Linked DNA regions of Homo sapiens. The protein of the gene in region 1 purifies or fractionates together with the protein of each later gene. This does not show direct contact. Each region holds a gene or a part of one and is shown in the gene's direction. Other genes may lie near its edges. The genes, in order: SFXN4, TSC22D1, HPX, COX15, CP, ITIH1 and C6orf58.

Region 1 (4,067 bases):
GAATCACTCTGGCTCCTTTGTTAAGACGACATAGCAGTCCAAAGTGGGGAAGCAGGCCAGCGGGCTGGCTTTGTGACATCCTGGAGGGTAGAGACAACAGAATAGAACAGCACGCTACATACTGCACTGGTGCTTAGATGGATTTCTGCGGCATAAGGGTAGAAGTGGAGGGGGCACCTTACTCAACTCGGAGGGTCAGGGAAGGCTTCCTGGAAGAGGAGATAAACCCCTGGAGGTTAAGAAAAGTGAGCTAGGCAAACTGAGCAAATACAGAAGCAGAGTCATACAGGCCTGAAGGACGCCATGAGCCAATTTCCTGTTCCTGGAGGCGCAGGGCAAGGGAAGGAATTGGCCCGCTGGAGGTTAATGGCCAATACTGAGCACTTCTGAGGGCTCAGTGCTGTGTTAGGGATGTTTTATCTCCTTTGATCAGAAACAAAACCCTGAGATAGGTACAATTGTTATCCTCATTTTGCGGATGGGAAAATAGACTTCGAGATACTGACTTGGCGAGGGTCACACAACTAGATGATGTGCTGGGTCCCCCAGTCCTGGACTCCGGAGGCCCCCTGAACGACCTAGGCACACTTGTGGCTTCCGTGAATTTAAGTGCACACAGCCCCCGCCTGGCCCTGTGCTGGGGAAGGGCAGGTGGGAGGAGGAAGGGAAGGCAGGTTTTTCTTTACAAATGGTACCTATTTGGTAGTCAACAAAAGGAACTGGATTTGCCCCAACACTGGAAGAAAAAAAAAAACAACCTGTTGGGCTGAGGGATAGTGCACTGTGCCCAGGGCCCTATACTTGGTTTGATGCTCTGGTGTTACTCTCTTGAAATTCTCAGTAACATGAATAAGGGGCACCGCATTTGACATTTTCCCTGGGCTGAGACCATGATGCAGCCGGCCTGACTGCGCAACACCATGCACACTGGAATTCGTGGGCCATCGGAGGGATTTTCGAGGGTAATGACCAGGGGTAGGGCGCGGCAGAAGCGCAGGGTGAGGTTGCGGACGGCCTCACTCACAACCTTTCCGGGTCTTCGCATTAGGTACTGTGATGACGGGTTCCGATAGTGACCCCTTGGGGCCTGGAGACGGCCCGGCTCCCCAAAGGTGCGGAGCAGGGCAAGCAGGGTTGGGAGGACGTGGCCCGTGGGAGAGCTGCGCTCGCCGGAACAGTGGGCGCGCAAGGGCCCCGAGGCGCTGTGACACGGGACGTCGGGCGCGCGGGCCTGGGGCGGGAACTGCGGGTGCGCGCGGCCCGGGGCGGGGCTCGCCGCCCGGCTCCTCCTCCACGCGCGGCCTGGCGGCGGCGGCCACTCTAACCAGCGCAAAATGTCCCTGGAACAGGAGGAGGAAACGCAACCTGGGCGGCTCCTAGGACGCAGAGACGCCGTCCCCGCCTTCATTGAGCCCAACGTGCGCTTCTGGATCACCGAGCGCCAAGTACGGCCCGGGCCCGGCGCGACTAGGGGCAGGGAGGGGGCGGGCCGGGCCGCGTGGAGTCGGGCTGACCCGGGTGACCTTGGCCAGGCCACGTGGGCGCCCCCTGTCTCCGTTTCCTCCTCTCGGAGTTGTGCCGGGAACGCGCACCACCGGCCTTCACCCCTTAGGGCGCGGCAGGGGACGCAGGGGAAATCGAAGCTGCCAGATGCCCACGACCACAACGTCACCCTCCAGATTGCCCTCTCGGAGGGGCCCAGTCCGCGCAGGTGGCTGCTCCCTACTGCCTGAGCTGTGGCTGAGCAGCAGATTGGGGAGAAACAGGCTCTCGCACCTTGGTAAGCTCAGCCACTTTCGGTGAGACCCCCGAGGCTTTGGGAAGCCACCCTTGGGCAGGACATAAGCAGGACTTATCTCCCTGCAGCGTCTAGGGCAGCACCGTCCAATAGAAATATGATGTGAGCCTTACAGGTAATTAAACATTTTCTAGTAGCCACATTAAACAAGATAAAAACAGCTGAAATTTTTAACAATACAGTACATTTAGCCTAGCAGGTGCAAAATATTAACATTTCAACATGTAATCAGTAAAAAACATTGCTGAGATATTTTACTCGCTTTTTTGGTACAGAGTGTTCCAAATCCGGCGTCTGTTACCTTCACAGCACATCTGGGTTCAGCCGCATGTGGCGAATTGGAGAGCAGGGCTTTAGGGGGTTCTCTTTGAGGCCTCTCCTAAAGTGGGGTCCAGCCCTGTTTTTTTTTTAGGTGGGGAAATTGAGAAGGGGCGGTGAGCTCAGGTTGCTCCAGCAGAGCCAAGGCTTAAAGCCAGAACCACTACAAAGTTTAGAGTTTGCTGGAGCAAACCTCTTTTTCCCCAGTGTGACCCCAGCTGCACCATTGAGCCCTTAATGGGGCGTCCATCCTTTGTCACTGGAGTGAAGCCTTATAGCAAGCAGAGAGTGAGGCCACAGACTCTTGAGATATTCTAGGCCATTGCTTCGAGGTCGTATGTGAGATATGAACGTAAGACCATTTGAACCCCCAAAGTCTGGGATTTTAACCCTCAAGGGCAATTTGATACTGAGAGGTTAAGGGCACAGACTTCTGAATCATTTCCTGGCTGTGTTGCCTTGAGTACATTCAGGAGTCCCTCTAAGCCTCAGCTTCCTCACCTGGAGAACCTGGAGAGGTTGGGAGGATCCCAGGAGATGATGCCAGTAAAAGGCAGATCACAGACCCTGGCAGGTTCTCAGAAAAAAAAAAAAAAAGCCAACTGTTAGTATTTATATCTTTATTTTTCTGCTGCCATTAACCTCTCTGTTGCTTTTCTCCCTCCTAAGTCCTTTATTCGACGATTTCTTCAATGGACAGAATTATTAGATCCTACAAATGTGTTCATTTCAGTTGTAAGTATTGTTTTCAGAGCTAATGAATTTCACATTTTATTTTGAAACTTGAAGTCTGTGTGTCCCTTTTTTTTTTTTTTTTTTTTTTTTGAGACGGAGTTTCGTTCTTCTTGCCCAGGATGGAGTGCAGTGGCACCATCTCGGCTCACAAGAACCTCTACCTCCCAGGTTCAAGCGATTCTCCTGCCTCAGCCTTCCGAGTAGCTGGGATTGCAGGCATGCGCCACCATGCCCGGCTAATTTTGTATTTTTAGTAGAGACGGGGGTTTCTCCATGTTGGTCAGGCTGGTCTTGAACTCCCGACCTCAGGCCCTGCCCACGTGTCCCTTTTAAAAGCAGTTGAAATAACAGAATCTACATATATTATTGTGTTTATTCCTTCTAAATGAGCTTGTCAGATTGGAAGGGGTAAGGAAAAGCGTACATCTGACCGTGTGCCGTGGCTCATGCCTTTAATCCCAGCACTTTGGGAGGCCGAGGTGGGTGGATCACCTGAGGTCAGGAATTCGAGACCAGCCTGACCAACATGGTGAAACCGACGTCTCTACTAAAAATACAAACATTAGCTGGGTGTGGTGGCAGACACCTGTAATCCCAGCTATTCGGAAGGCTTGAGGTGGGCGAATCACTTTCTGAACCCAGGAGGTGGAGGTTGCAGTGAGCCGAGATCTTGCCACTGCACTCCAGCCTGCGTGACGAGCGAAACTCCATCCCCTTCCCCCAGCAAAAAAAGAAAAGAAAAGCGTACATCTGTTTAACAGGTAATATCAGGCCCAGGCCAGGTGCTGGGGATTCAGAGAGAATCAAACAAATCTTCCACGTGATGGAGGACAGACTGGCTAAACTGGTCACATCCTGGGTGACAAGAGTGAAACTCCATCTTTAAAAAAAAAAAAAGAAGAAAGAAAATGTAATAAAATTAGAAGCAAATATAACCAGATGTTTACAGTTGTTAATTCTGGGTGAGGGGATTATAGTGTGTAGCCATTCTTTGTAATTTTTGTATTTATTTTTTCTCAAATTAAGAAATGGAGGCTGGCTGTGGTGGCTCATGTCTATAATCCCAGCACTTTGAGAATCTGAGATGGGAGGATCTCTCGAGAATAAGAATTTGAGACCAGCCTGGGCAATGTAGCGAGACCCTATCTGTACAAATAAAAATAGAAAGTTAGCCAGGTGTAGTGGGTTGTGCCTGTAGTCGCAACTATTTGGGAGG
Region 2 (3,500 bases), on another chromosome or scaffold:
CTGGGATTACAGGCATGAGCCATCGCGCTCGCGCCCGGCCACTGTTCTACTCTTTTGGAAGCTTTTTCCAACCAGCCTTTCTGTGGAGATAAGGAAATGTAAATTGTGGTTGAATTTAACAGCCATTTCTTTGGCATTTCTTCTTGTTTTGACAGTGTGTGGGACCCAACACTAAAACACTATTTGTTGTTTTTCTGCCATTCACATTTAACTGATAGTCCTGTAGTTTCATTTGTTAAACCTGGTAAGTATATTCCCATGCCTAGTGAGAGTAAACTAGAAAAATGGAGGTGACGTGGGAGTCCTTAGACAGCAGTGATTTGGTCAGGTACAGGGTAATGTGCCTTCGCTTCTTTCCTGGCAGTTGTTTTAGATTTGCAAGGAGTTTGGATAGGGGGAGAAAGAGGTTACTCTATTTCAGTGCTGAATCTCCAACTGTACCGGTGTTGGCCAAGTCAGATTAAGTTTGGAAGAAAAGCACATGTTACAGGAAACAGAAACACTCAGGCCTGTTCCTCTTTTCCTATCCTGTCATGCTTGCTACCAATATGCAGTAGCAGTTGAATTGGAATCTGTGTAAAAAGGCTTTTAGGCAGACAACACTAGAAAATACCTCAATCTCAATTGTCCAGGCTGTTTAATGTGTATGAGTTCCCACTGAGGTGATACCTCCTGATCTTTGCTCAGTGCCTGAAATAGACTTATATGGTCCATGGCTTTAAGGATCTCTCCTGGAAGCCTTGTAGTATTTTTCTCTGCCCTGTCAGCAAGTCTCAGTGAGCTCTGATGAGGCACCAGACATATGGATCGTTTGTCTTGCAATTAGAAGAGCCTTTGAATGTAATTCTAGCCATTTGTGCCACGGACATTTCTGATCCAAGGGTTTTCCCTCCATGGAGCTTTCCATTTCCTTTGCCTTCTTTTTCAAATTATGTCTTCTCAGTTTTCATACAAAAGTCTAGTTTTAAAGGAATCTAGCATATTTATGTGAAATATATGAGAAAATTAGATTTCTAATCATTTTTTTAGTTGCCTATCCTTTGGCTCAACAAATTCTCCAGAAGTGTGCACACACACATACATGTTCAAGGATGTATGTAGAAGGATGTTCCTTGCAATTTTATTTAAAATATCCAAGTATTAACAATAACTGTAATGTCCTTCAATAGGAAAATGGGTTAAATAGACTATGGTTGCTTATATTTGCTTCTCTTGCTTGATACAATGGATGATCAGTTAAAATGATTGAAATAAAAACAGCTTTCTGTTTATGTTGAAGAACGGCATGAATAAATTCAGTTAATTTAGTAATTTTTTAAAACTGCAGCTTGGAATTTAAAAATTTTTTTATATGACCTTAGAGTTTTGTTTTTTAAAGCTCTTTTTATAGCTTAAATGGTGCTTTAATACCCTTTTTTCATGAAGTTGGCATTCAGTTAAAACATGTAAATGGAATTTAGCATACAAATAGTTTTAGGTATAACTTTAACTTTCAAAATATAGAGACTATCATGTAGTAAATAATATTCTGGTTAGCATTCATAGACATAGGGACCACATGCCAGCTTCCCAAATAATTACGATTTCTAAGCTTCTACTTAGTCTCCTTTTGTTGGAAATGGGTATCTTTTTTTTTAAAGCATCATATGAGTTAATATATGTAATTTTTATAAATTATAAATATGTTAACAATTATTGTTATTCAAAAGCCAAGCCTTAAAATTTGGAGAATATGAACCTTTCAGTAAAAAGGGAATCTCATCACTTTATAGTTGGTCACACTTTGGTTTTTAACCCAAAAGAGAATTGTGGTCTTCATCATTTACTGTGCTTACCGATCTGGTCTGGTTCCTAATAACTTTGGACAGTTTCTGAAAACCAAATCTACCTACCCCCACTACCAGCATTGAGTCAACTTAAAAACTGTCTAAATGGATCTGATGGCAATTTTAGAAAAGGATGCTGCTTGAGGAAAGATGCTTATTTTGGAGAGAAGACTGTGTGTGTTTGTGCATGTGCGTGTATTACATATATATGTTCTACGGTCAGATTTTATGTTGGAATTATTTGTGATGACACAATTTTATCTACAGATTAGAGAGGTCTCCCCAAGTACTTTGTAGATTTTTTGGTTTTTATATTATGCCATTAGAGGGCAGTATTGTAGAGGTTAAGTTTTCTTTCTCGCATGTATTGACTTGGAAACTGTTTATGTTGTATTATAATTTAGCAAACTTCAGGGCTTAGATTTCTAGTATATTAAATTGTAGCCTTAATTGATGCATCCCTGCAAGTATTTTAAATTAATATAGGAAATTTTGAAAGGGTTAAGCTATTTTATACCCACATCTCTCGATTTTGGTTTGGAGAAGGGAATTATTTGGTCAGTGTGGCCAAGAGGGTGAAACAGAGGTGAGCCTACAGCATCTATTGGCTGCTTAACTATTTTTAACCACCATTATATCCTCCCTTTTCTGGTTCTGGACACTGCAAATGGGCAGAGACTAACTTCAAGGATTTGTATGCTTTGAATACATACTTTATAATATTTCAATCCCTCTGATGTAAGAAGGCTCATAGGATTGAGGGATTGAGTCTTAGAGGAATTGTCACTCAGCTTGCAAAAACGTGCCTTAGGGACTTAACTAAAAATAGATTTATGTGGAATTCAACCTGTGGATTGACTTTTTTGGGTCTAAATAGAAGAAGGCATATTTAGTTACTAGGGAGAAGATGCTAATAGGGAGATGTGATTTTAAGGTTTGTGGCTCTACGGGCTTTTTGGGAAGATCCTGGATTTTATCTGGAGTCTTTCCCTCATGCCTAGCAAAGAATATATAATGTTTTTTGTTTTGTTTCTATAAAACAAAAGGTAGTATCTCTCAAAGAGCAAATGTGATTTTTTTTCCTCTAAAATTAAAAAAATACATGATTGCAGGGTGATTATTATCTTTAAAAATAAAACCGTCTATAAAATCCTCCCAGTACCGCTGCCGGTAAGAACTAGATAATTGAAATCAAGACACTCGAAGTCTTACAGTGGTGGGACTGGGCATGCCCAGTAGCTCAGACGGTTCGGGTTACAAATAGGAAGCTTTCGCCGTTAAGCAGCCGCGGGACACAGCTCCGGGGACCGGGGTCTGACTCCCTTAAACGTAAGCACGTGTGGGGGCCCCCATAGTATTTTTCAGGGACCCTTCACATTTTCTGCCGAAGCAATGGCCCAGTGTTTTGAGGCCGCCGTGGAAACCTCCGAACCCAGCACCCCACTCCCTCTGAGCACGGCCCGCGCCAGGCCAGCCCACCCCACGAGCGGGATCTGGAGAATGGGGGCGGAGGTGGGGGTGGGGGGAGGCGGGGAAGCAGGGAAGCGGGAGGACCTGGAAGGGAGTAGGGGGCGGTCCCAGTGGCGTGCCGGCCAATCGGCGCAGCTCTTTCCTGCATATATTTTGCACTAAGACTGGGAGTCCTGGTCTAGAGCTGAGTGGAGCCCGGCTGCG
Region 3 (3,500 bases), on another chromosome or scaffold:
TGTGGTGGCATGCACCAGTAGTCCCAGCTGTTCAGGAGGCTGAGGTGGGAGGATTGCTCGAGTGTGGGAGGCAGAGATTGCAGTGAACCGTGACTGTGCCTCTGCAATCCAGCCTGGGTGACAGATTGAGACCCTGTCTCAAAAAACAAATAAATAAAATAAAATAAATATGGTTCCTGAGCAGGGTAATTTCAGTGGGAAACCTCCCAGGGGAGGTGGATATGTCAGTCACCGCTGTATACTCAGTACACGGCTAATAAGAGAACTTGTGGTAGCAGCAAGAACACTAGGTATTTACTCAACAAATATTTGTTGAGCATCTGATAAGAAGTGGGCATTGTCCTAGGCACTGAGATACAGTAGTCAACATGGCAGACAAGATGCCTGCCCTGACAGGCTCTGCTAAAGTGAGAGAGGACAATAAGAAAGAGAAAGGAAGAAAGAGAATAATTTTAGGTAATATTAAGGGTTGTAAAGAAAATAAGACAGGATAGTGGGATAGAGGTGAGGAGAATGAGGGCTGTCTTCTGAAGAAATGATTTTTGAGCTGAGACTTCAGTGATGAGAAGGAATTAACCACACGATGTGCTGGAGGAAAAGCATTTTAGGGAGGGTGAGCAGCACATACTTCAAGGAATCAAGAAGGAAGCCTGGTGAGGCTGGAACACAGAGAAAGAGCAGGTGGGTGACTTGAAAGGGCAGGGACGGCAGTGGCCAGGTTACCTAGACCTGGTAAGGGTTTTCAACCATAAAAGGGAGTCATCAGAAAGTCTTGAGCAGGGCTGTGATATATTCTAACTCATTTTTTATAAAAGATCACTCTGACTTTTTGCAGAACATAAGTTATAAAAGTACAAGCATGTAAGCAAGGAATCCAGCTAGCAATCCGTGCAGTTGTCCAAATTAGAGGTGATGACCGCTTGGACTAGGATGATAGCAGCAGAGGTGGTGAGGAATCACCATGATATATTTTGGAGGTAGAGCTGACAGCATTAACTAATAGCTAAGATAGGCCGGGTGTGGTGGCTTACGCCTGTAATCCTAGCACTTTGGGAGGCCAAGGCGAGTGGATCACCTGAGGTCAGGAGTTCGAGACCAGCTTGACCAACATGGTGAAACCTCGTCTCTACTAAAAATACAAAATTAGCTGGGAATGGTGGCACATGCCTGTAATCTCAGCCTACTTGGGAGGCTGAGGCAGGAGAATCGCTTGAACCTGGGAGGTGAATGTTGCAGTGAGCCGAGATTGCACCATTGCACTCCAGCCTGGGGAACAAGAGTGAAACTCCGTCTCTAAATAAATGAATGAATGAATGATATCAGTCAGAGTAGGGAAGGGAAAAGAGGCTTCAAGAATGACTCAGCTTTCGTGGACTCAGCAACTGAGTGGCTGGTGGTTTTGTTTTCTAAAATTGGGAAAGACTAGGGAGTGTGTGTGTTGGTGGGGGGCAGAAATCAGTTTGGGCATATTAGGTTTTGGGTGCCTATTGGCACCCCATAAGCATGTCAGGTAGGCAGCTGATTTGGAGCCTAAACCTCAAAGGAGAGGTCAGTCAGAGCTGACGAGAACAGATTGGAAGTCATCAGCATATAGATGGCATTTAAAGCCCCTGGACTAGGTGAGATTACCAAGGAAGTGAAGGTAGAGAGAGAAGAGAAGAGGCCCAAAGTAGGGGATTCCAATATTTAGATATCAGGTTGAAGAAAAGAGTAGTCAAAAAAGATAAGAGGAATACTGGGAGAGTCAGGTGTCACAGAAGCCAAGTTCCAAAAAAAGACATTTAAAGGAGAAGGAAGTAGTGAGCAGTCCAGTGCTCCTGAGAGGTAGGGTCAGATGAGAACAGAGAATTGACCATGAGATTTCGCAAATTGGAGAATACTAGCAACCTGGATAAGAACAATTTCAATGGTTGAGGGAAACAGAAGTGTAATTGAAGAGGATTGAGGAAAAAAGACAAATGGGAGCCTAGATAATTCCTTAATAAGTTGTTGTGAAAAGAGGAGAAGAAAAACGGGGTGCTAGCCCAGCTACTCCCTCACTCTTCCACCACCTCATAGGGAGAGACTGGAGAACACAGCCAGAGTGAGAACATTCAGTAGAAGTGGTGCTTCCTTTTTAAGTTCTGGACACTGTATTTCATTATCTATAACCGCATCTCTGTACATGGACACCTGAAATCCTTAGGGAGTGCCCGCCAACCCCATGATGTTGGCCTTACCTGGAAACTTAGCCACTGTTTTCCACACTTGCCTTTCTTTCAGGCACCTGCTGATTCCAGTTTCAGCCAGGGCACAGTGCCCAACATTGCTGACCAAGTCTTGCTCTATTTCTCCTTCTCACCTGGCCTCTTCCATCTTGGCCTCTGGATGCATTCTCTCCCTCTCATGACTCATTTCTGCATTCATCACTAGCCTCTTCTCTGCCTGGGCTTCTGCCAGCGGCCCTAGAGCAACCTATGGTATTCCACAGGGACCCACTACTGGCGTCTGGACACCAGCCGGGATGGCTGGCATAGCTGGCCCATTGCTCATCAGTGGCCCCAGGGTCCTTCAGCAGTGGATGCTGCCTTTTCCTGGGAAGAAAAACTCTATCTGGTCCAGGTGTGTATTGGGGGAGAGGCTTGAGGTAGAGACTGGGACAAGCATATCCAACTCTGTATTTATTACCATCCTTTGTCCTCCAGGGCACCCAGGTATATGTCTTCCTGACAAAGGGAGGCTATACCCTAGTAAGCGGTTATCCGAAGCGGCTGGAGAAGGAAGTCGGGACCCCTCATGGGATTATCCTGGACTCTGTGGATGCGGCCTTTATCTGCCCTGGGTCTTCTCGGCTCCATATCATGGCAGGTGAGGGGCTTCTGGGTGCTTAGAGGGCAGCTTGTTCTGCTACCTGTCTGTGGCATAGATCCCCACCAGGGCATGAGAAGGCCTAGGTCAGGATCCCCAGGGCATGAGAAGGCCTAGGTCAGGATCCCCATGACATGGAAGCCATGCTATGTTTGGTGCCTTCTCCCCAGGACGGCGGCTGTGGTGGCTGGACCTGAAGTCAGGAGCCCAAGCCACGTGGACAGAGCTTCCTTGGCCCCATGAGAAGGTAGACGGAGCCTTGTGTATGGAAAAGTCCCTTGGCCCTAACTCATGTTCCGCCAATGGTCCCGGCTTGTACCTCATCCATGGTCCCAATTTGTACTGCTACAGTGATGTGGAGAAACTGAATGCAGCCAAGGCCCTTCCGCAACCCCAGAATGTGACCAGTCTCCTGGGCTGCACTCACTGAGGGGCCTTCTGACATGAGTCTGGCCTGGCCCCACCTCCTAGTTCCTCATAATAAAGACAGATTGCTTCTTCGCTTCTCACTGAGGGGCCTTCTGACATGAGTCTGGCCTGGCCCCACCTCCCCAGTTTCTCATAATAAAGACAGATTGCTTCTTCACTTGAATCAAGGGACCTTGGTCGTGAAACAATCTTCTTTCTTTGAGTTGAAAAGTTAGCACTTCTCC
Region 4 (3,500 bases), about 19 Mb from region 1:
TTGGGAGGCTGAGGCGGGTGGATCATTTGAGGTCAGGAGTTTGAGACCAGCCTGGCCAACATAGTGAAACCCCCATCTCTACTAAAAGTTAAAAAATTAGCTGGGCAATAGTGGCGCGCACCTGTAATCCCAGCTACTTGGGAGGCTGAGGCAGGAGAATCGCTTGAGCCTGGGAGGTGGAGGTTGCAGTGAGCCAAGATTGTGCCACTGCACTCCAGTCTGGGCGACAAAGTGAGAAAAAAAATTTTTTTAATTAAATAAAATTTATTTACATAAGCTTTTTGTTTATTTAAACTTTATATTTAAATAAAATTAATTTTTTATTTAATTTTCAGTCATACTAGCCACATGTTTCAAGCTCTCCTTAGGTAGATGATAGAACTTTTCCATCACAGAAAGTTCTATTGGACAGTGCTGATATACTGTCCTATAATATGTTAGTAATGATACCTAACTTTTCATATAGTAGAGTGTAAGCCATTTGAGGGTGGCATAGTCACCTGTTTATAAAGTTCTTATTCATATTTGATGATTCACTTATTAGTATTAGAAGTTGGTAATAAGAATAAAAACAAATTTTGATTTTATCAAAAACACTAAATGGAGGAATCTCTAAGCACTTTATGCAATTTTGATTCTGACTATATTTGCTAAACACTAATATCACACACATGAAAATCCAGTCCTGATCTTAAGCTACATCCTTTCAACCGTGATGAAGCATTGTTTCCTGAATAATGGAAATCATTCAGTTTTTGAACAGATGCGTAATGAGTACCTATGTGCCAATCACTAGGCTAAGATTGCTCTAGTAAAAAAGATGGCAGTTCCTGCCTTCACAAAACTTATGGGGTAGAAGGGAAAACAGATAGTAATCTATAATTATAATAAAATACAGTACATGTTGGAACAGAATATCTGCCAGGAGTACTTAACCTAGTCTAGGGGTCAGAGAAGATCTGATCTTAATTTGTCACTTGGGTTTGGCCTTAGAGATCTTTGCTGCCTCTCATTGTTCCTGCAACACAGTTTAACTGAATGATTTTTTTTCATATTTAGTTGCCTGAAACCCACCAACTCCTACAGTTGAGACGATTTGCTCATGGAACAGCAGGTCTGGTGTTCCTTACGGCCCTCTCAGGTAGGACTCAGCTCATCAAAGATGACCTGTTTGCATTGCACTCTAAGCTGGGACCTCTTGCCTAATGCTTTGCCCCTTCCTCCTGCATCTTTATATTTCCTTTTCACATCTGTTTCTCTCATTCCCCCATCTTCACCCTGTTTCCTGTTCCTTTCTCTCTTCCAAAAATTCTACTTTACTGTCAATTGAACAAAAATATTGAACATCTACCTAGATCCAGATGGCCTAGGTTCAAATCCTGGCTTCACTACCTGTGAACTATATGACCTTTGCAAGCTCTGTAACCTCTCTGGGCCTTAGAGACCTTATCTATAAAATGGAGATTACGACAACAGTATGACTGCTAAATGTGAAATGTGTAGCATCGTTGTTGGCATGTAGCAAAGGCTACATAAGTGTTAGCTGTTACTATATATAAACATTGTTATCATCACATTACATCAACATGGGTCAGAGAAAAGGCTTGCCCTCAGAGATGGTTGCAGGTGGAGAGTTCATTGGCACAGAGAGACCAACACAGGATTTTTTCATTCTTTTTTTTGAGACTGAGTCTCACTCTGTTGCCCAGGCTGGAGTGCAGTGGCATGATCTCAGCTCACTGCAACCTCTGCCTCCCTAAATCCAAGCGATTCTCGTGCCTCAGCCTCCCGAGTAGCTAAGACTACAGGTGCACACCACCACGCCCAGCTGATTTTTGTATTTTTAGTAGAGATGGGGTTTCACCATGTTGGCCAGGCTGGCCTCGAACTTCTGACCTCAGGTGATCCACCCGCCTTAGCCTCCCAAAGTGCTGGGATTACAGGCATGAGCTACCATGCCTGGCCGTTTTCATTCTTTAACCCACACTTCCACCACTGCTGCTCTCATTCTAGAACTGCACTATCCAGTAGAGGAGCCTGTAGCCTCATGTGGATATTTAAACTTAAATTAATTAAGGTTAAATAAAATTTAAAATTTAGTTCTTCAGTCACACTAGCAACATTTCAGATGCTCCACAGGCACATGTGGCTAGGGGCTAGTATATTGGTTGGCACAAATATAGAATACTTCCACTCTCACAGAAAGTTCTATTGATAGTACTGCTCTGGACTAAAAATAATATTGATTCAAACCAATGAGCCACTCAACACTTTTATTTTTGGCATAAGAGCATGAATTTTTACTTCATAAGGGACATTTAAAAAAAATATGGAGTGGGTTGGGCATGGTGGCTCACACCTGTAATTCCAGCACTTTGGGATGCTGAGGCAGGTAGATTGCTTGAGCCAGGGAGTTCAAGACCAGCCTGGGCAACATGGTGAAACCTCGTCTCTACAAAAAATACAAAAATTAGCCATGTGTGGTGGTATTCACCTGTAGTCTCAGCTACTCAGGGGGCTGAGGCGGGAGGATTGCTTGAGCCCAGGAGGTCGAGGCTGCAGTGAGCGGAGATTGCGCTGCTGCACTCCAGCCTGGGTGACAGAGCAAGACCCTGACTCAAAAAAAGAAAAAAAGGCCAGGCATGGTGGCTTATGCCTGTAATCCCAGCACTTTGGGAGGCCGAGGCAGGCGGATCACCTGAGGTTGGGAGTTCGAGACCAGCCTGGTCAACGTGGTGAAACCTCGTCTCTACCAAAGGGCGCACCTATAGTCCCAGCTACTCGGGAGGCTGAGGCAGAAGAATTGCATGAACCCTGGAGGCAGAGGTTGCAGTGAGCCGAGATCATGCCACTGCACTCCAGCCTGGGGGACAGAGCCAGACTGCGTCTCAAAAAAAAAAAGAAAGAAAAAAGCGAGTGTGACCCAAACATTTCTGGATTTTCTTTGATAATAAATAATGGATCAGACATCCATTAATTCATGAATACCCTCTTTATTTGTTTATCCAGGATTTAGTTTATAAGTTTTGGGATTTTTCTCACTTCCGTATTCAGTCAACAAACATTTATTGAGCATTTGGGGAAGACAGATAACGCACAATAGAAACATAATGTGCTAGATGATATTTAGTGCCATGAAGAAAAATAAATTAGGGTCAGGAGACAGAAAGTGGGCTAGGATCATCAAGCGAAATCTCTTTGGTAAGGTGACATCTGAGTGGAAGCTGAGGAAATAAGGGAGTCAGTCATGCAGACATCTGTGGGAGAGCATTTCTAAAATAAATCAGTAGCACTCAGTGGCGGGGTGAGGAGGGCATCAAAATCACTAAGGGAATTTTTCTAAGCTAATAAGCCTCTCCCCCTCCCCCCACACCACAGCCTCTACTCCACTTCTCTAGAGGAAGCAGAATCTTGGGGTGGGAGCAGGTAAGGATGCAGAGATTTGAAGTTTCCTTGGTGATTGTGATGTATCTTCTCTGTTGGAGAACTCCTGTTGCAGA
Region 5 (3,500 bases), on another chromosome or scaffold:
TTTATGGCAATGCTCTTCCTATTTTAGGAAATGATTAATACAGGAGCATTTCAATGCAATAAAATCATTTTGACAAAGCCTGCTATAGTTTATCAAAATAGGACATGATGTATGCCAAAGTGTATTTACATTCAGAAAATATAAAGAAACATTTTATTTAAATGAAGCCTTAAGAATTTGAGGGCTAACTTTTAACTTTGGCCTATGTAAGATGTGTACCAATAGGACATGGTAAAGCATGGAGTAAAGTCTCCAAATATTATCAAATCAATCTCTCAGAAATAAAAGTGTGTTCAGACTCTTAAGAAAATTTACCCTGGGGCTTAGACAAGTCTCTGTGAGATTGATTGGTCCAGGGTTCCGGTGGGACCAGAGTGGAATTGTACCTTTGTACTGTAGACTTTGCAGCTGCAGTTGTGTACCTAACTGAAATTGCACTCTTATTGACCTCCTCTCAGTCATATGGACTGAATGACTCTCTGCTTTTAAACTTAGTAGTCTTTGATGCAACAATTTTGCTGTTGTTAAGACATATATTTATTAAGACTCTTTCTGTGCATTCCTTGCTATGGGTTTAGGGACAGAGTTCACCCCAGTGTCTTGCCCTTTTCCCATGCCTACCTGTGTCCATGAAGTCTCTCCCAATCTTTTCCTATTTTGCTTTAACAAATTGGGAAATGGCAACAAACAATTAGAAAGTGAAAACAAATAGAAAAAATGAGGGTATACTCACAGTTTTGCTGCTCCACACAGGCTGCAAATAATGACACTTTATTTTTCTAACTTCTAGCTTAGCCCTCCCACCAGGACAGGGGATGGACAGGGAAACATCATCTCAGTCATTTTTTTAGTGAATAATTTTATCTTCTTTGGGAATTCGGGTTTATACAATTCAGGAAAATTGGTATTCCCAGTGTATTGGTATATGGTAGTGACTAGGAGGAAACGCTCATCATAGAAATTCCTTGATCAATCCAGAGAATGGTGACTCTTATTTTCAACACCTGCTCACTCTGCCCAAACTCAGCCACCAGGACCATTGCCAAGTGGCCATGGTACCTGGCCCCAGCACTCAGGCTTAATCTATATAGCCTCCACCGCAGAGGTCCTGCCACTTCCAGGTATGACCTGGAAACCGAGTTTTCTACCTTTCTGTCTCATGGTATCAGGAATCCCACTGCTTCTGGGATTGGGCAGCTCTCTTAATCTTCAACCTTAGAGCCTCTTCAACACAGGTTACCCAGGGCCCCAGAGCAGACTATCTCATCAAAACACACCAGTGTGTTGGTTAATAATGCAGATACCTGGGCCCTGCCCCAGACCCACAGAATCAGAATCAATGGAGTTGTGTCCCAGGAGTTTGCATTTCACTAAGTTCATCAGTAGATTCCTGTGCATATTCAGACTTAAGAAACATCAGGCCTTAGACTTTTGAAAAACCACATCTTTAAATTCTGTAGCAGTGAAAGTCCAGAGCTCTCACACAAGCTCTGCTCTTGTCTTAAAGAAGGGAAAGAAAAATATATCTCACTTTTACCAGTGAGCTTACAACTGAGGAAACAAGACAAAACTTATTCCTCAGTCAGATTACTCGGCCCCACAAATGTTGAGTAGAAATTGGTAAAGTATCAAAGATCAATAAGATGAAAGAAGGCAACACACACACACACACACACACACACACACACACACACACACCCATGATGATGAGCAGTTTTTATTCAAATGGAAGAGCCTTGGTTGTGGAGGGGCTTGCCAAAGGCCAGAATCTAAGTGGGTCCTGCCAAATGGCAACATGATGTTGCCCATGAATAGATCCCACTGGGCTATATAAGCCTTCAGTTAAGGTTGATAACACAAGAAATTAATTCAAACCAAATTTACTTTCTTTCCATCTTTTCTTTTCCAGATTGCTATTTACCTCACTGATATTTTAAAGAAAGTTTTAAGCAACTATTAATGGACATTCACTAGAATACAAACATTCAATGTTAAGTATCTGTACTAGTGAGGGATTAAAAAACACAGGGATTATTTAAATTCAAAAGTAATTTAAAAACCACACACATTGCATGCATCAACAACTCTAGCTTTGATTTAGTGCTGTTAAAAGAAATATAAAAGAATTAATTTAGCTTTATTAATCTTACTTTAAGGAAAAAAATATATAAATATACACACACATACTTTGAAGTCTCAAATATCCAGATTGATTAATTATAAACTCAAATTTTTCCAGTAGCTAAGAGAGGTAGAAGTGAAAAAATGTCTTAATTAACTGCTTTATTTTAATATTTCAACTTAATTTTGTATTCTATTCCATTACATAATATGCCTGTGTCTTAATATAAAAATCATGGAGAAAATACTTCAGTAAGATGCACTACATTTCTATGATGCCTTCGCAGATGGTTCTCTGACATATACCTGATATGGAAAGCCTCACATCATTAAAATAACAGGGCTAACTACCAGCCCTCCACTTCAATTTTGGAGGCATCCCTACAACAGGCAAACATTCAATGTGATGTGCTCATTAATTTCTCTAATTATAATGTTATTAAATTATAATGATAATGTCATCCCTAGAAATGATGGCTTCTGATAGAGTTGTCTTGTTTTTCTTTGCAGGGAACATTCCAATATCTATCTTCAAAATGGCCCAGATAGAATTGGGAGACTATATAAGAAGGCCCTTTATCTTCAGTACACAGATGAAACCTTTAGGACAACTATAGAAAAACCGGTCTGGCTTGGGTTTTTAGGCCCTATTATCAAAGCTGAAACTGGAGATAAAGTTTATGTACACTTAAAAAACCTTGCCTCTAGGCCCTACACCTTTCATTCACATGGAATAACTTACTATAAGGAACATGAGGGTAAGTTCAGCTCATGTAGCTGGAATTTCCTCTTACTTTTCAGTAGAAGTGCCTTTTAGCTTCTAAAATTGTGGACTTCTCTCCTGGATAAGACATATAACTGCCATTCAGCTCTTAACTATTTTTTTTTTATTTTTTTTTAATTTTTTTTGACTTCTGTCACCCAGGCTGGAGTGCAGTGGCACGACCTCGGATCACTGCAAGCACCGCATCCGGGGTTCAAGCCATTCTCCTGCCTCAGCCTCCCGAGTAGCTGGGACTACAGGCGCCCACTACCATGCCTGGCAAACTTTTTTATTTTTATTTTTTTTTTGCATTTTTAGTAGAGACGGGGTTTCACCGTGTTAGCCAGGATGGTCTTGATCTCCTGACCTCCTGATCTGCCCGCCTCAGCCTCCCAAAGTGCTGGGATTACAGGCGTGAGTCACTGCACCCGGCCAACTATTTTATTAATAGGTACTTTGTTTCCATATAATAATGGCATGTTTCTCTTGGTTGTGCTCTTTCGTGGAAAGTGTGAATGTGAGAGAATTTCTAGGTGGACTCAGTGAGAGTCAGAGAGAGCTGGAGCTTCTTTCCCAGAGCCCAGTCCTTTCTGGCCAAATAGAATAAGAGAAATGG
Region 6 (4,255 bases), on another chromosome or scaffold:
CTCACCCCGACCGTCCAGACTGTCTCTGACAGAGCTAATACCAGGTTAGCACTGTGAGAATCACCAGCATGGCTGGATGTCACACACTTTCTAAGCCACCGTGTCTGCCTCCCTGGCCAAAGCATGACTGAAAAGTGTGTTGATGCTGAAAGAATTTTGAAACAGTCTGGGCAACAAAGTGAGACCCTGTTTCCCTCCCTTTCTTTTCTTTTTTCTTTTCTTTTCTTTTCTTTTTTCTTTTCTGTTCTTTCTTTCTCTGTCTCTCTTTCTTTTCTTTTCTTTCTTTCTTTTTGGAGACAGTCTCGCTCCGTCACCCAGGCTGGAGTGCAGTGGCACAATCTTGCCTCTCTGCAACCACCACTTTCCAGGCTCAAGCTATTCTCCTGCCTCAGCCTCCTGAGTAGCTGGAACCACAGACGCATGCCACCATACCTGGCTAATTTTTGTATTTTTGGTAGAGATGGGGTTTCACCATGTTGCCCAGGCTGGGCTGGAACTTCTGGCCTCAAGTGATCTGCCTCCCTCAGCCTCCCAAAGTGCTGAGATTACAGGCATGAGCCACCTCGCCCGACTGAAACCCTGTTTCAACAAAAAATAAAAATAATCAGCTGGGTGTGGTGCCACATTCCTGTGGTTCCAGGTACTCAGAAGGCTGAGGTGGGAAGATCAGTTGAGTCTGGGAGGTCGAGGCTGCAGTGAGCCAAGATCGCACCACTGTATTCCACCTGTGCGATAGAGGGAGACCCTGTCTTAAAAAAAAAAAAAAAAAAGAAATTTGAAAGTAAAGCCTGGCCGGGCCCAGTGGCTCACTCCTGTAATCCCAGCACTTTGGGAGGCTGAGGCGGGCAGATCACCTGAGGTCAGGAGTTCGAGACCAGCGTGGCCAATGTGGTGAAGCCGTCTTTACTAAAAATACAAAAATTAGCTGGGCATGGTGGTGTGCACCTGTAATCCCAGCTACTCGGGAGGCTGAGGCAGGAGAATCACTTGAACCCAGGAGGTGGAGGTTGCACTGAGCCAAGATCCTGCCACTGCACTCTAGCACTCAAGACCAAAACTCCATCTCAAAAAAAAAAAAGTAAAGCCTAATGAAGTTTAGAAATCCATTTTTAACTGTTGCTTCTTGCCACATGTCACCGTGTCACTGGTGCTGCCTTGTGCCAGCCCGAGGATGAGATGAGCCATCCGGGGATCCTCACAGTTCACATAGGCTAAGCGCAGTTCTACACAGAGGGACATGGTCTGGAGCCCCATCAGTAGTTTAACCACCCAGAGCTGGGAACCCCCCTGAGGCAAAAAGCTTCCACTGCCAAATTTTGATTCCTCTAAATGTGTTAGGTTGATGCAAAAGTCATTGCGGTTTTTGTCATTAATATTTGCCTGCACCTTGTCTAATGTTTAATCCATGTTTATCCAGCACTGTATTGATTACTGGTCTGACTGAGGTGACAGGGCAGCAGGAGCCTTAGAGCATGGACGGTGCCATGGGGCCTCGGGGGCTGCTGTTGTGCATGTACCTGGTATCTCTCCTCATCCTGCAGGCCATGCCTGCCCTGGGCTCGGCTACAGGCAGGTCCAAGAGCAGCGAGGTATATGGCTAAGCCCACAGGGCAGAAATAGGCAGCTGAACCTGGATGAGGCCCCGGGCGGGACACAAGACCCCCATTCAAGGGGCCAGGGTCACCCCCACCACCTCCACCACTTCTGAGTGGAGAGGTGACCTCCCAGCACCACCAAGGAGGTGAAGCTAAGGGGCAGAGGACACAGGCTGTGTTCCACTCCCATCCCTGAACTGGCAGGCCGGTGGTCCCCTGAGTTTTCCTCTCACACTTGACCCTGATTTTGTTTTGCAGAAGCGACAGGCTGTGGACACCGTGAGTAAGAGTCCTGGCAAAGGGGTCTGTGACAGAGCCCTTTTTACAGGCTTGCTTTCCCCAACCTGTCAGGGGTGGACCCCTCTATCAGGGCCATAGGCATGGGGTACTCTCCAGGGTCCTAGAAATGGGGACTTGTTCCCATCTCACCTCATATCCCACAGCACGGTCTCAGCCAGAGAGCAGGGGTCTTCCTGCGGTCTGTTCTTCCTGCATCTGGGCACCATGCACTGGGGCTAAGTGCCAAGTCCCCGTACCACAGGAAGTCCCTCGCTGACAGAGGCCCTGTCTCAGGCCACAGCTCCTTCATGTCTCACTTTAGGCTGTCGATGGCGTGTTCATCCGGAGTTTGAAAGTCAACTGCAAAGTCACCTCTCGCTTCGCCCACTATGTTGTCACCAGCCAAGTGGTCAACACTGCCAATGAAGCCAGGGAAGTGGCCTTCGACCTGGAAATCCCCAAGACAGCATTCATCAGTGACTTTGCCGTGTGCGTGCCTGCCCAACTCCCATGCCTTCTCCCAGGGGTGCCGCTTACTAGTCCCAGCTTAAGAACAAGGATCGGAGTGGCCAGATAACGCAGAGCATCTCCTCATTCTAGAAGGGCCACAGACCAGCCCTGGCTTTGAGGGGAGGAAGAAGCCCTTTAGGTCTGTGCTTGGCTCCCATCTTGGAGGCAAACTGGGACCCATCACAGCATGTTTCAGGCTAGAACCCAAGGAGCCAAGGCCAGAGTCTGAGGCTTCTTGCTGGCCTCTGACCTGGGCTGCTCACCTCATTGCCCATGGACCCCTGAGTTCCACCATGGGCAGTGGAAGGCTCGTCAGGAGACGTCCTTATCCAAGGGCTCACATGGACAGGCCCTCTCAGGACCTGTGTGGTCAGGAGGCTCATCTTTCCTGAGGGTGTCCTTCCCTCCCTGCAGTACAGCAGATGGAAACGCATTTATCGGAGACATAAAGGACAAGGTGACTGCATGGAAGCAGTACCGGAAAGCAGCTATCTCAGGAGAGAATGCCGGCCTTGTCAGGTGAGTTCTGGGCCTGCTGGTCTCATCTCTAGGGCTGCCCTCCCCAGCCAGGACAGGTCTGATGGCTGCAAGGTGGCTTTAGTGGAGAACAGCCCAGGATGATGGAAGGGTAAGCAAACTGCCCAAACCCAGATGCCAGCACGGTGCACTGAACAGGCTGCCGTGCAGTTGCCCTTTTCCCAGATATGCCACTGGGAGAAGTGGGCCCCCGCCATCTTGGGCCCTGACCCTGACCAGCCAGCTAACACATTTGTGAGGTCCAGGGAAACCTGGGAGCAACACTCATCTAAGAGAAATAAATTCTGTGGGCCACATGTTAGGTGACAAGGACCCAAATGTCATTTACCCTCTGTCTGTCTGCTGTTGCCTCTGGTGGCACATCCAGGGCCTCGGGGAGAACTATGGAGCAATTCACCATCCACCTCACCGTCAATCCCCAGAGCAAGGTCACGTTTCAGCTGACTTATGAGGAAGTGCTGAAGAGAAACCATATGCAGTATGAAATTGTCATCAAAGTCAAGCCCAAGCAGCTGGTGCATCATTTTGAGGTAGATCACAGGTCCCGGGGCAGGGGTCCTGCCCCTCTCTCCGTCACCATGGCTCCCAACACTGGTTGAGCACCCACCATGTGTCACCACCCAGGCCTGAGAACACAGGGATGGGGACTAACCCCTCAGGGTGAGCTCTGATGTGCTCTTCTTGGGCAGGGAACTCCCTGAATTCTCTAACTTCCTCTTTATCTCTGAGCTTCGGTTTGCTCATCTGCTAGACGGGGGGTTTCTGTGAGTCCCAGGACCGCCACAGGGATCACGAGAAGTACTGAATGTCCAGGTAATTTTGTAAACTAGAAAGTCCCGCGCAGCCTGAGGGCCTGGAATTATTGCTGGCACCTAAGTGGTGGCTGAGTTGAGGGATGCAGGCATGTACACCTTCATTTGGTCAGTATTTTTGGAGTGCCTACTGAGTACCAGGCCCTGTGATCAGGGCTGGGTGGGTGCTGCACACAGTAGGTGGCCAGGACACATGCTGGCTCTTGGCTGAGACTTGGTGAGTGGGAGCCCTGGTAGAGAATTTGCTTCAGTGTGGTGTGAGCCTATAATCCCAGCTACGTGGGAGGCTGAGGCAGGAGGACGGCTTGAGCCCAGGAGTTTGAGGCCAGCCTGGGCAACAAAGCAAGATCCCATCTTTTTTTTTAAAAAAATAATTTGCTTCAATGTTGCAGATTGATGTGGACATCTTCGAGCCCCAGGGGATCAGCAAGCTGGATGCCCAGGCCTCTTTCCTGCCGAAGGAACTGGCAGCCCAAACTATCAAGAAGTCCTTCTCAGGAAAAAAGGTACATGGGATAGCAA
Region 7 (3,500 bases), on another chromosome or scaffold:
TGAATTTTTTTATGACTTATGCCTTCCTTAAAAATATCCTCTTTGAAATTTGTTAGTGCTTGTAGTAATAGTAAATCTTTTGTTCTTACAGATTTGAATTATTTTCTGTCTTCATTACCCTTTCTTGCTGCGGTTGATTCTGGTGTAATGGGGATATCATCAGACCAAGTCAGGCTTTTGCCCCCACCCAAGAATGAGAGGAAGTTTTGTTATGATGTTTCTAGCTGTCGTTCATCCTTCCCTGAGACAATGAACAAGTGGAACACCTTTTACCAGGTTCCTTCTTTATACTCTTACGAGATAGGAAGAGAGTTTATTTTGTCATATAATTTCGTCTAGGATTTTTTTGTGCATTACATAATATTTTCCTTAGTATGCAGATGTAAATTGCTATGCATGATATATTAATAGTATATTGTAGAGTGTTATGAGTCATTAACACCTACTGCCTCAATACAGCATTAACATAAATCTATCCATTCTTCTTGCCTCAAATACATTATACAAAAATGGTGAGCATACAGGATATTTTGCTGAATGATTAATAAGCTATTCTGATTAATTGAGTCTTCATGTCCACTAGGATATTGGAAGAAATTTGACTAAAATCAATGAAGAAAAGATATATTTACTAGTACTTTAGTAGATTATTGCATTAGTTTAGATCTAATGAAACATTTTAAGAAGATATTTTTGTTACTCACGATTTTATGGTAATTTTAACAGTGTTAACAGGAAAAAATAAAGGCCTGATCGGTATAAAATATAAACTCTGAAAATACTTGAAGTTCAATACTTATAGATGCATATGCTATTATTAAAACTAATGAATATTTTTGTGTTATTTAAAGAGTGTTAGGCATTAAGGCCATATACATACTTTTTCTTAGAAATAAAATTCTTCTTTTATGTACAATATTGCTAAAATATATCTGAACATGACTAAATTTCAGGGAGAAGGATTTTATAGTTGCTCAAATATTAATAAATTTGACCTCTTTACCTTAGTATTTGCAGTCACCTTTTAGTAAGTTTGATGATCTGTTGAAGTACTTATGGGCTGCACACACTTCAACCTTGGCAGATAATATCAAAAGTTTTGAAGACAGGTAAGAATGAATCTTTAAAGTATCTCTATTTAATATGATAAATAATTTTGGGCATTATTTATATATTTTTCTTCTTCTTCTAGAGTGTTTTTCAATCTTTATATTAAATAATAAGCCTAACCATTGGAGATTATAGTGAGGATGTGTAAATATTTTAACATGATCAGGCTTAAAAAAGTGTTTTATGAAGAAGGGGAAAATTTTGAGAAAAAAAAGCCTTGCATGAAAAAACAAAAAAAAAAGCAACAGACAATACATTTTCCTAAATGTAGAAAACAAAATATAATATAAATATGTAGATGACCTTTATTATTTAATCATAGACACTGTTACAAGAAAAACTATAGATAAGATAAATGTAGCAGAATTCACTTAAGCAATGAATGATTCATTAATCAGCATCATCCTGAACCAGTAGAGGTTCAGAGAGCTTCACCCAGTGATGTGGGCAGGCAGTATTTATAGACAGAAAAAGAAAGTGACATATGGAAACACCTTGATTGGTTACAGCTCAGATTTGCCTCATTTGGACATAGTGTGGTGAGAAATTTGCCTTGTATAGGCATGGTTTGATCAGTTGGCAGCCTGTGATTGGCTGAAGCTCAGCTGCCATGATTGGCTGAGACCCATATTTGTTACAAGAAAATACTCTTAAGTTTGGTTGCAGTTTGTTTACAAACTACATTAAGTTGCAGTTTGCTACATATCGTGGCAATTTTAGGCCAAACTTAATTTAACAATTCCCCACCTTTTGGTCTGCCTCTCAATTTTGAGAGGTTGACCAAAACCTTGGGCATTGACATCACTCTCTGTCACTTTCATCATTGACTTATTTGGTATCAGTATGGAATTCACAGTTCACAAATCAGGACAGTTGACTGATTATTTATGTTCTCTTTATGTTTTCATTATTCTAATTTTAATGAGACCATTTGACATAGAATGAATAGCTGCATAAGAGGATTTAAGACTCTGGGGAGGTTAAGGTGCACCAGGGAAACTATTATGATGGCTGTCAGGAGGCTGATACTAAGAGACAGAAGGAACCTCAATGAATTGAACCAACATAAATCAAATATATAAATAATAAGCCAGAAGAAAAATCTACTTGTTTTAACCAATTGGCTTGTTTGTTGATTTCTTACAACTGAGCTTCTACCCTACCTGATGAATTTACTTAAGTACAGGAGGGAGTGTTAGCTAGCGCACATATTCCTCCCTAAAGGTAGTCCAAAGCAATCCGGTTACCTAATATGCCTTTAGCAAGAAAATCTAAAGAAGTTTGCTGGCCAATTGTAGCCTTTGCAGTAGAGTCAGCTGTAGTAACTAATGTATGAGACGTATTTCTAAGCATAACCTCCTTTACATTTATACAAAGCCAGGGAAGGAATTTTTTACCCAACAATACCCATTAAGAAGAATTCATACCTGCTGGTAAATTCCTCTTTATTCCATAGTTCAAATTAAGAGTTGCAGACCAATATCCAGTTTCCAATTAGTTATGGAGTGACAGGAGTACTCTTGGAATCCCTTAATTGTCGGTGGCTCCTTATTTTGTAATTATTGAGACATGGATTTGCCCACATATATGGTTGGTTGTTAAATCCTCCACAAATAAAAATATATTCTGGAAGAACCCTACAGATAGTCTCCTGTGTGAGATGCCTTGTGCGTTATGAGTCAGCATTATGAGTCAGCATTAGTAATATTTGTCTAAGGCCTCATTTTTTAATCATTGTATGGTTAGAAGATACTAGCAACTAAAGGATTAGGGTTATAAATTTGCCTACAAACGTCGAATTATCTTCCTTTTGTTTTTCAAATTCAATTCTGGCTTAATTTAATTACCATACTCTCATTATAGGTTTTGCCTACTGTTAGATTTAAACAGGCAATCTGAATATTTGAATCTAAAAGTCTAGCTGTTTAGAAAGAACTAGATATTGCACATGGAATATCAGTGAAATTTCTTACAGGGTGAACCAGAGTATCTCTAAGATCATGTGAGGATTTAGGTTTAACATGACATATGCAATACTCAGTTAAGTTCCATGCAGAAGTAATTGAGTATGAAATCTTCATTATCACATTATATTGCCATGTGTAGACAGAAAAGAAACATGGGCCAAAAAGGAAAAGGAGAAAAGACTTCATGTTGACAGAGGAGAAAAGACTTTATTCATGATCTTGGGAAAGCTGTCTACATCAAGGATGCCATCTTCTTCTGGGGAAAAAAAACGTTCCTAGTAAGCTTTACCTGGAGATCTCCGATGGGTGTACAGTCCCAGGGGTCTGGAGGGGCTCTCTTGAGTTGAGAAATGTGGATCCAAGACTCAAATCCCTGAAGTTGTGCTGCAAAAAAGAGCTTGGTGTGGTACCTTCTGATGGAGT

Evidence for each region.
Region 2: the proteins of SFXN4 (region 1) and TSC22D1 purify together in Homo sapiens (co-immunoprecipitation; one large-scale study listed by IntAct). This does not show direct contact.
Region 3: the proteins of SFXN4 (region 1) and HPX purify together in Homo sapiens (affinity purification with mass spectrometry; one large-scale study listed by BioGRID and IntAct). This does not show direct contact.
Region 4: the proteins of SFXN4 (region 1) and COX15 fractionate together in Homo sapiens (co-fractionation; one large-scale study listed by IntAct). This does not show direct contact.
Region 5: the proteins of SFXN4 (region 1) and CP purify together in Homo sapiens (affinity purification with mass spectrometry; one large-scale study listed by BioGRID and IntAct). This does not show direct contact.
Region 6: the proteins of SFXN4 (region 1) and ITIH1 purify together in Homo sapiens (affinity purification with mass spectrometry; one large-scale study listed by BioGRID and IntAct). This does not show direct contact.
Region 7: the proteins of SFXN4 (region 1) and C6orf58 purify together in Homo sapiens (affinity purification with mass spectrometry; one large-scale study listed by BioGRID and IntAct). This does not show direct contact.

What each region holds. Positions count from the first base shown.
Region 1 is NC_000010.11:119,162,915-119,166,981, reverse strand, and holds the start of SFXN4 (sideroflexin-4), read left to right. Parts: upstream 1-1,267; 5' UTR 1,268-1,334; coding exon 1,335-1,445; intron 1,446-1,724; exon of another isoform or gene 1,725-1,913; intron 1,914-2,785; coding exon 2,786-2,851; intron 2,852-4,067. UniProt on the Homo sapiens protein: Mitochondrial amino-acid transporter. Does not act as a serine transporter: not able to mediate transport of serine into mitochondria.
Region 2 is NC_000013.11:44,436,831-44,440,330, reverse strand, and holds part of TSC22D1 (TSC22 domain family protein 1), read left to right. Parts: intron 1-3,038; exon of another isoform or gene 3,039-3,155; intron 3,156-3,472; exon of another isoform or gene 3,473-3,500. UniProt on the Homo sapiens protein: Transcriptional repressor. Acts on the C-type natriuretic peptide (CNP) promoter. Acts to promote CASP3-mediated apoptosis.
Region 3 is NC_000011.10:6,430,988-6,434,487, reverse strand, and holds the end of HPX (hemopexin precursor), read left to right. Parts: intron 1-2,470; coding exon 2,471-2,601; intron 2,602-2,684; coding exon 2,685-2,847; intron 2,848-3,017; coding exon 3,018-3,277; 3' UTR 3,278-3,439; downstream 3,440-3,500. UniProt on the Homo sapiens protein: Binds heme and transports it to the liver for breakdown and iron recovery, after which the free hemopexin returns to the circulation.
Region 4 is NC_000010.11:99,718,628-99,722,127, reverse strand, and holds part of COX15 (heme A synthase COX15), read left to right. Parts: intron 1-1,059; coding exon 1,060-1,141; intron 1,142-3,500. UniProt on the Homo sapiens protein: Catalyzes the second reaction in the biosynthesis of heme A, a prosthetic group of mitochondrial cytochrome c oxidase (CcO). Heme A is synthesized from heme B by two sequential enzymatic reactions catalyzed by heme O synthase (HOS) and heme A synthase (HAS).
Region 5 is NC_000003.12:149,211,830-149,215,329, reverse strand, and holds part of CP (ceruloplasmin precursor), read left to right. Parts: intron 1-2,631; coding exon 2,632-2,879; intron 2,880-3,500. UniProt on the Homo sapiens protein: Multifunctional blue, copper-binding (6-7 atoms per molecule) glycoprotein. It has ferroxidase activity oxidizing Fe(2+) to Fe(3+) without releasing radical oxygen species. It is involved in iron transport across the cell membrane.
Region 6 is NC_000003.12:52,776,144-52,780,398, forward strand, and holds the start of ITIH1 (inter-alpha-trypsin inhibitor heavy chain H1 isoform a preproprotein), read left to right. Parts: upstream 1-1,455; 5' UTR 1,456-1,472; coding exon 1,473-1,589; intron 1,590-1,853; coding exon 1,854-1,874; intron 1,875-2,196; coding exon 2,197-2,363; exon of another isoform or gene 2,364-2,523; intron 2,524-2,798; coding exon 2,799-2,903; intron 2,904-3,288; coding exon 3,289-3,451; intron 3,452-3,777; exon of another isoform or gene 3,778-3,950; intron 3,951-4,125; coding exon 4,126-4,239; intron 4,240-4,255. UniProt on the Homo sapiens protein: May act as a carrier of hyaluronan in serum or as a binding protein between hyaluronan and other matrix protein, including those on cell surfaces in tissues to regulate the localization, synthesis and degradation of hyaluronan which are essential to cells undergoing biological processes.
Region 7 is NC_000006.12:127,580,174-127,583,673, forward strand, and holds part of C6orf58 (protein LEG1 homolog precursor), read left to right. Parts: intron 1-91; coding exon 92-276; intron 277-1,008; coding exon 1,009-1,109; intron 1,110-3,500. UniProt on the Homo sapiens protein: May be involved in early liver development.